2 separate regions of the Homo sapiens genome follow, and region 2 is linked to region 1. Evidence: fine-mapped expression QTL. A gene starts in region 1. The other region holds a variant in brackets. All regions are shown on one strand. Distances are between the middles of the regions. Region 1 holds the start of CEP120 (centrosomal protein 120). Region 2 has its middle 10 kb from the start of CSNK1G3.

The links. PIP is the estimated chance that this variant, and not a neighbour inherited with it, causes the effect. A credible set is the group of variants that fine-mapping cannot tell apart.
Region 2: its variant is the best candidate, but not a certain one, in a credible set for the expression of CEP120 in whole blood (INTERVAL, PIP 0.81).

The regions. Positions count from the first base shown.
Region 1 is chr5:123,420,930-123,424,929 of GRCh38, forward strand. CEP120 (centrosomal protein 120) reads right to left here and starts at 2,474. Exons shown (of 20, transcript NM_001375405.1): 1 at 2,021-2,474. The coding sequence starts at 2,069. RefSeq lists an enhancer at 1,740-2,685 and a silencer at 2,015-2,174.
Region 2 is chr5:123,499,726-123,504,264 of GRCh38, forward strand. No RefSeq gene overlaps it. Among named protein-coding and RNA genes, the nearest start is that of CSNK1G3, 10 kb to the right of the region's middle. The variant T/A (reference allele first, on the strand shown) is at 1,814.

The DNA.
Region 1 (4,000 bases):
GCAACAGCATGGTTATGATGAATGGAAATACAGTACGAACAAGAGAGAAGAATAGTTTGGAGGGAGGACCACATGCTAGTTTTGGGTATGTTTGTGGAAACAACCTAACAGACATCCTTGACTCCAGGTTCTCTTCCTTGCACACTGCTACTAAACTGAACTCAAGAAAAGCATTCTATTTAGGAATATATGCTGCCAACCTATTTCTTGGAACATTAATTCTAAACTGGCTTTCAAGATCCTCTGAGGCCTATTCGCTCCAGTTGTACAAGCTCATTTCTTACCATGACATTTCTAAATATTCACCTTCCTCTACCCTGGTCATCTTGCTGATCTTTTCAATGTTCCACCCACCATGCTCACCCCGGCACAAGCTACTTGGTTGGGAATCAAGCTGGTCAGAAAGACCTTGACTGCTAACCTTTTGAGTTTAAGCCTGAGGCTCTCACTTGAAACTCTGTATTAGGAATATTAACACACATCGCACAGCTCTCCCAATTAGCACTAACAGGCCTCTCTCAGGACCTCATTTTCTGCTGCTCTAAAACTAGCTTCCCCAAATGAATTGCATTTATGTCCTGGGTTGTCAGACTGGCCTGGGTTGTCCATAGAATTCTATTGTCACATATCTAAAGCTCACTTATTATTTAAAGAACTTCAGCCATCCCACCCACCCTACCCTCAAACCTATATTTACAGTACATATCACATATTTTAAATATTATACCCCAACATATTGTGTCCTGTGATCTCCCCACGTGGACAGACCTCTACATCCTTGGAGGGAATGGAGGTATTTGTTTCCTCATAGCATGGTCAGTTATAAGTCTAAAAACTGTTGTTAACCAAATTTTAAGGTTATTTCAGTCCTATGTTTTTAAACAATAAGTAAACTAACAGTTAATAGTGCTCCAAATCTTTATGGCTTTTCTGGTCAGTCTCTTGTTCCAAAATTCAAAGATTAGGATTACAATGTTTCCTTTGCTCTCATCCCTCACACAGTGCCAGGCCTTTATAAAACACTCTCCCATGGGGGAAAAAATGCAGCCAGGCTTCTGCTCTGGCTCAAGATGACTCCTTCTTAACATACTATTCGTAAAGTGTCCTCAATTCACCTGTTATCTCCTATGCCCTCCACTTTCTTGCAAATCTGTTCTCCAACCACACTGAATTTAACCAATGTTTACTGAGTGAATTTAATTAAGCAAGGCAAAACGTGTCTTGCTTTTCCATACTTTAAGTGCTCCCTGCTCTTCTCTTTGCCTGGAATGCCCTTCCTTTTTTCACCTGACAAATTCCTAATCATCTGTAGGACCCCAAAAAATGCCACCTCCTCTAGTGAAACTTCCGCAGTTTCCTTAGACAGAGGTGGTCATTCATTAGGGTCTTCCACATCCTGATGAATTATTTGCTGACACACTCTCCTTGCTACATCCTTAGCTTTTTAGAATCAGGACTGTTTCATTCTTACATTCCCAGCACAGTGTCTGACACTCAATGAGTCCCAATAAACCAATGTCATTCATCCAAAACACACCTTTTAAGGAATGTATAATACACCCTCTTAAGAACTGTAGTCCCCTGAGTCCTCCAGCAAGACGTGTAAAGGGAATTGCCTCCGGAACACTTCTGGAATCGCAGGAAGCCTGTATTCAAGTCAAAGCTCTTACAAGTGCTATTATTGGGAACCGCTGATCAGAACGCGCTTCTCAGGACCACGTTCAGCTCATATATAAAAGCCATCGACGTGCTGCTTTGGATGAAAATCGTTTTCTCTAGATTCTCTGGGGCTACGGCTAGTCACGCTAAATATCACTTATCCCTAATAGCGCTCATATCCCTGGAGAGATTTTTAAATCAATTGCCTAACAGACCTCACTACGTACAACTTTGAACAAGTCTGTGGGGACCACAAAAGCACAGATGACAGGGTTCTTAAGGTTAACAAGGCCTCGGTCCCACACTAAGCTTTTAAAACTCGGGAGGCAGCAGTTGCAAAAGCAAGCCTCAGGCTGCTCACCTTCTAGGATGGACACGACGATGAGCAATTGGTCGGATTTGGAGACCATGGTTGCGGTGAGCGGTCCGGGGGCGAAGGCGGCTGGGGGGAAGTGAGGTCCAGTTGAGTCGCGGGTAATCCGGGACCCCCGGCGGGACCCCCACTGCCCGCCCCCGGTCCCTGATGCCCGGACCCCGCTCCGCAGCCAGGTCCCACCGCCGTCTGCTGCAGCGCGCCCGGCTCCTCTGCCTCGGGCCGCCAGCCCAGATCCTAACTGTGCCCCGACTCAAGGAAAAAGCCACGCTGCAGCCCTGCCAGTCTGCAAGCAGAGACAAGCCCGCCACCCGAGGACCTTTTGCCGCCTGCGTAGCCGCTTTTCAAACGCCCGGGCGGCCGCAGCGGCCGCCGCCGCGCCCAGCTTCCGCCTAGCAACCAGGCCCGCAGGCCCAGTGCCCAGGGGAGGTTGGAGGACAACGGGTGATAGAGACAGAGCAGTCAAGGCTAGAACGCCCGTCAGCGAGCTTCGCCTCCCGCCCTTTTACGCTCTGTTCCAGAGCCCTAAGGAGGACGCCTTCATTACCTCACAGCGCCCTCTGCTAGCCGGACGAGGAGAGGCGGGCGACTTGGTGTGGGACCAGCTGCGCAAGCGCACTACTGCTGTAAACGCTTCCTGAAGCTGCGTAGCCTTTAAGGAGCGTGAGTGTAGCGTATTACCTGCTTTATGCTTCAGCCACAACCTGAGAGTTATATTAGTGGGGATTAAAAAAACAAAAAAACCTAGCTTAGTTGACGTACCCAGTGTCAACACTGCTTAAAAAATTAAATCACAAAAAAATAATGACTTAAATCTAAACTCTAAAGTCCCTAAATCGTGCTCACGCGGCACCTCAAATTTCCGACCTTTGAAAACAAGTAGCTTCAATACGGTAATTACTGTACTTGTTAAAGCTGACGTAAACTCCCCGAGAATTTCCTGTCCCTTAGAAATTACCCCTAAAACAAAAACACTGTCACGTGGGCAATGAAATATAAAGGTTCTTCCACCCCCGATGACAAAGTTATTAGCAAACTCAAAACCAAAAATAAACAAGGCATTGAGGTGCTGTCTGCCGACCCTTTCCCCTTAACGTCTCCCAAATTCAGATTTAAGAAACGGTTCAAGACTTGTAAAGGGAACGGCCTCCTAAACACTACTCAAATTGCAAGAAGCATGTATTCAAGTCAAAGGCAAAGTTCTTTTGGAGGTTATCTAGCTTGAAACTTAAATAACCGAATTGGTTGGAGCGATCGTGGACACTATTAAGTTTGGGAAAAATTCTGCTTCGGAAAACAAAAGTAAATCATAATAAAATAAAGCTGCAGAGATAGCACTAGGTAGTGGACATAAGTGCGGCTTCTCCTATTACTTTCTGGTTTTGTAAATTGAGAAGTTGTTTTGAGAGCAAATATAATATCTCGCTGTTTTCTTTTTCTTCTATTGCTTCCTTGTTTTGGAAATTTAGAAGTTATTTTGAGAGCAAATAATATAATATCACTATTGTTTTCTTCTTCCTCTTCTTTATTCTTCCTTCTTTGCTTTCTGCCCAAAAGAAAAGGAGGAATATGTAGAGATTGGACTAATTACTTCTAAGGCCCTTTCAGGTCCTATCACAGGCATTCTTAAAATGAAGCACTATTCAATGTAAAATCAAAGTAATGATCTACTTTGGATTCATCATTGAACAATGCATTATTTTTGTGGAAGATGTCAAACATACTTTAAAGAAAGCAGAATGATATAATGAACCCCCAGTTACCCAGACCCCAGCTTCAACGATTATCAACTTAAGACCAATCATCTTCATCTGTTGTGTTATTTTTAAAGAAATCCCCAACATCACATCAATTCATCTTTTTGGATACGTACTTCTAAAAGATGAAGACTTTTTGGCCAGGTGTGGTAGTGGCTCACATCTGTAATCCCAGCACTTTGGGAGGCTGAGGTGGGCGGATCACTTGAGT
Region 2 (4,539 bases), 79 kb after region 1:
GCTCGGGTTCTGGAAGCAGAATTAAAGTGGAGTTAATTTCAGAACATTTAGATCTGACTATCTTCCAAAGGCAAAGGTACTTTTTGTTTCCTGTTCTTTATTTCCAGTAACTTTACCAAGCCAGTCATCATAATCCAATCTGAGGGCATGTGAGGCTCTTCAGGATGGGCTTCACAGTGATCTAGGAATCTACTGTTTGTAAAAGGACATGGAATTAAAGGTGAAAAAAATCTATGTACTTCCCCAGAGAGCAACAAAACCTCACTCTGAAAAGCATGTGGTTCAGATTTTTGGAGGTTAAAGTAGTTGACTTTGCCCACATGAAGTAATGTAGAATCAATGTCACTAAAACTGTGTGTGTGTGTGTGTGTGTGTGTGTGTGTGTTATGGGTGAAGCTGGTGGAGGCATAACGTATAAAACAAATATACCCACAGCACAACAACTACCTATTTTCTAATATATACATATACATACATATAAGTATATTATATACATATACATACATATAAGTATATTATATACACATACATATAAGTATATCATATACACATACATACATATAAGTATATTATATACACATTATATATTATCTAAATGCATATTATATATACGCACACATTTAAAATGTAGCTAGCTAAAAACTTACAGTGACGCCCTTTATGACTGCCACATGCCATCTTGAATCCTGGTTCAGGCTAGCCCAATAGTATGGTAGCAGCCTCATGCCACATTAGAGAATCCAGAAAACATATAATCTACTCGCAGACAGTGGAAAGACATATGGGAAACCCATATTACTGAGAACACAATAAGGAGATCATAAAGGAGGAAAATATGTTTGAGGCAAGAAAAATAGGGCAAGAATTAGAACTCTGGTGGGAGTGAAATGTCTATGTCATGCTAGGTCATTTCGAAATACAATTTGTTTTGGGGAGCATGGATTTAGTAATCTACAAAAAATTCATTTTAGTCACGTACCTTGGGGTTGAGACCTGGCAAGGATTTAAGCTGATTCTCATAGTTTTACCTCAGATTTTCCTGGCTGTTAGAAGCCCCATCGCTCTTATTTACATATAAAAGCTCTGTATAAAGTGAGGGAAAGCTTATAGAAGGGAAAAGCCAAGAAATAACTAAGAAGTCTTGGGACCTTAATATATTTCCAAGTTTCTGACTTCCTAACATCTCTTCCCATAAGTTCCCTGACACAGTGGGTATGACAATCTGCTCAAAGGAGAAATGACACGGCACTCACCAAAAGGGAACAGAAGAAGGAAGCTGGCAGTTTCTTCCTCTCTTTCCACAACAAAATCACACCCCTTTATTGGAAGGTGGTCTAGTTGGTAGCATCACATCACCAGAAAAAAGGCCCTAGCTTCACCCTCAGCATGGAGCAGAATGACAGGAGAACTTCACTGACATTTGATAACTTTCACTTAGTTTATTGGCTTTGAGAAAAAACATGGTGTACCACATACATACACACCCACCTACACTCACACATGTTAATTAAAATATATTATGAGTCTAAAACCTCTCAGCAATTCCATTATCCCATTATCCCATTCTGGTCCTAGTCAGCATGTTGTGCTAGTAACAGCCTCCAAACTGGCTACCCTTAGAGTCAAATCTCTTCATAGCAGCCAGAGTCTTCTTTAGATGTAAATTAGATTCTTTCAAGCTTCTACTTGAATCCTCTAGTGGCTTTCCTTTACATTTCTCATTTGTAAAATGGACTTACAAAAATGCCAACTTACTGGGACTCTGAAAATTAAACGAGAGAAAGCAGGCAAAGTACTTCCACAGTGCCTGGTA[T/A]ATATCGTAGACACTCCATAAATGTTCAATGGTAGCATTGCTATTATTATATTTTTTTCAATGTGTAATGAGTTGATAGTTATCTTACACTTGTAATTCTTTTTCAATTACTAGTGACCATTCAGGGGATGTTGCTCAGGAGATTCATTAGCTATGGTTAAACACACAAGTTCATGCTATTACAGGAATATTGTATATTTTGGAGCAAAATACATATAGCGAGTGTCCACGTAAAAAGCAGCTTCATGTGCCATTACTTGCCTGTCCTTGCTTCTTTTGAGTTTAAGCTTATATTTGCTTGTTTTCTCTGACCCAAACACTTAATTTAATAGTGTATTTCTCCTGATTAGAAGTCATATTGACCTTCTTGCATCTCAGTTTTGGCCTCTCTAGGAGACAAATGTGTTTCTCCTTGAGGTGCCCCTCCATAACCCTTGGTGTGAAATTCAGGAGTGTCACATTTAGGCCAGACTAACCCAAAGATACTCTCCAAATTTGGAGGGGAAAAAGAGACCCAATAATTTTCATGCAACGTGCCTAAGTAGACAAAGATAAACTGAACTTCCCCAACATATTTTCTATACTGTGCTTTAAAGAAATCAAGACAGTTTACAAAAATACACATAGCACAAGATAAAAATGAAAGGGAGTAGTATACAAGACAAGATTATACCACCAGAGTTGCTTAACTAAAATGCATGTTTTAAGATACATGGAATACGTTGAGATAGACTACAAAGTTGGCTCTGGGTTTCCTAGCAATCAGCACCATAAGGAAATAGAAATGTTAAATGATTTATGGCACCCGTAAGATTAAAACAAACCAGCTGTATAAAAGAAACATAATTCTTCCTGGTATTGTAACTTAAAATAAACTTGTTCTTTGGGTTCTCACATCGAAGATATGGTGTGATGGAGTAAATATCACCCTTAAAAATATTCCTACAGTAATTGCTATAATGAGTCTCATAGGACAGTTTCTTATATTGTCCCACAATGTAATCACTTAGTTATCCATAACAGGGCCGGGCACAGTGGCTCACGCCTGTAATCCCAGCACATTGGGAGGCCGAGGCAGGTGGATCACCTCAGGTCAGGACTTCAAGACAAGCCTGACCAACATGGCGACACCCCGTCTCTACTAAAAATACAAAAATTACTCAGGAGTGGTGGCACATGCAGGAGGCGTGGTGGCACATGCACATGAGGCTGAGGCAGGAGGATTGCTTGAATCTGGGAGGCAGAGGTTGCAGTGAGCCAAAATTGTGCCATTGAACTCCAGCCTGGGCAACAAATACAAAACTCTGTCTCAAAAAAAAAAAAAAAGTTATCCATAACAGAAATCCACATTTTGGTAAGCAAGTTCTATGCAAGGTGTTTGTTGGGGCAGTGGAGGAGATACAAAATCATGTGGGCCAGATGTATCTAAATCAAAGCATAAATTTGAGATATCCATAGAAGTAGAAAGGCTGCATATTTTTTAGAAAATTCCCCCAAAATATTTTTTTCAAATGTTTTCAGTATTATTTGACAGGGCAGTTTAAAGTTACATTCTTAAATACCTCTTGCCAATTAATGGCAGACCCATTAATTAGACTCACAACCTTTTTATCAAAGCTAATCCTAACCAGGACATGTTAGAACAGACACTGTCTAATTTCAAACAATGCAACTTCCTACTGAATCTTCAAGGATAAAGTAGCTGAAAAGAGAACCTAGAGTTGTAAGCAGCTAAAGGTTGGAGAATGTTTACTAAAAATAATTATTAATAATCATTTGTGTAGATATGTGGCTGAAAGGATCACTTATGTAAGTGAGCCAGTTGTACACAAGTAAATATTGGTTATTTAGCTTAAAGAATCTGTCATTCTTTGGGACCTGACATTTTGCAATAAGAGTTGATTAAAGAGTATTCTGAGTACACACCACAGTAATTCTCTGACTGGTGCTGTTTCCTGTGAATGCTATCATCTTTGAAGTTGTGCTTTAAAAAGGCTTTCCTTCAGCCTGTCTCTTTTCATTGCTCTCCCATATACATACTTACAGTTGCTCTAATTCAGTTTGGCATAAATCACTACTTTAGGATCTCTCTATCCTTTCTTTCCTCCTCCTTCTCTCTTTCCTTTATTCCTTTGTCTAAACAGGTTCAATCTGGAGACACTGTATTATAATAAGTCAACCCTAAGTCTGATAGTGTGTCCCAGGATCTCCTAACTCACCCCTTATTCCACATCATGAAAAGCAGGGTAAATACATGGACTTTGGAGTCAGAAATACCTGTATAGAAATTGTACCTCTGTCATTTACTAGCTGAATGACCTGAACACTTTGCTTAAACTCTGAGTCTTACTTTTCTCATTTACAAAGAAAGAGAAAATGATACCTACCTATGGTGATTAAGAAATGTTTTCTAGAAAATGCCTGAAAGTCTTCAGTTGGGCACTCACTAGTTGTTAGTTTTATTTCATCCAATTTGCCATTACATGAGGCTGTGGGCAATAATGATAAAATTATTCTAAGAGCCAGATGTGGCATTTGTAGGTATTAAGTCTTATCTCAGCAACTGTGGTTAGATTCAACCCCTTTTTAAAACCTAAAACCCTTCTATTTGACTTGGTGCTTGTGGTAGGCAAAATATGTCCTTTCTCCCAAAGATGTCCGCATCCTAATCCCCAGAAACTATGAGTATATTATCTCAAATGGCACAAGGGACTTTGCATTAAGAT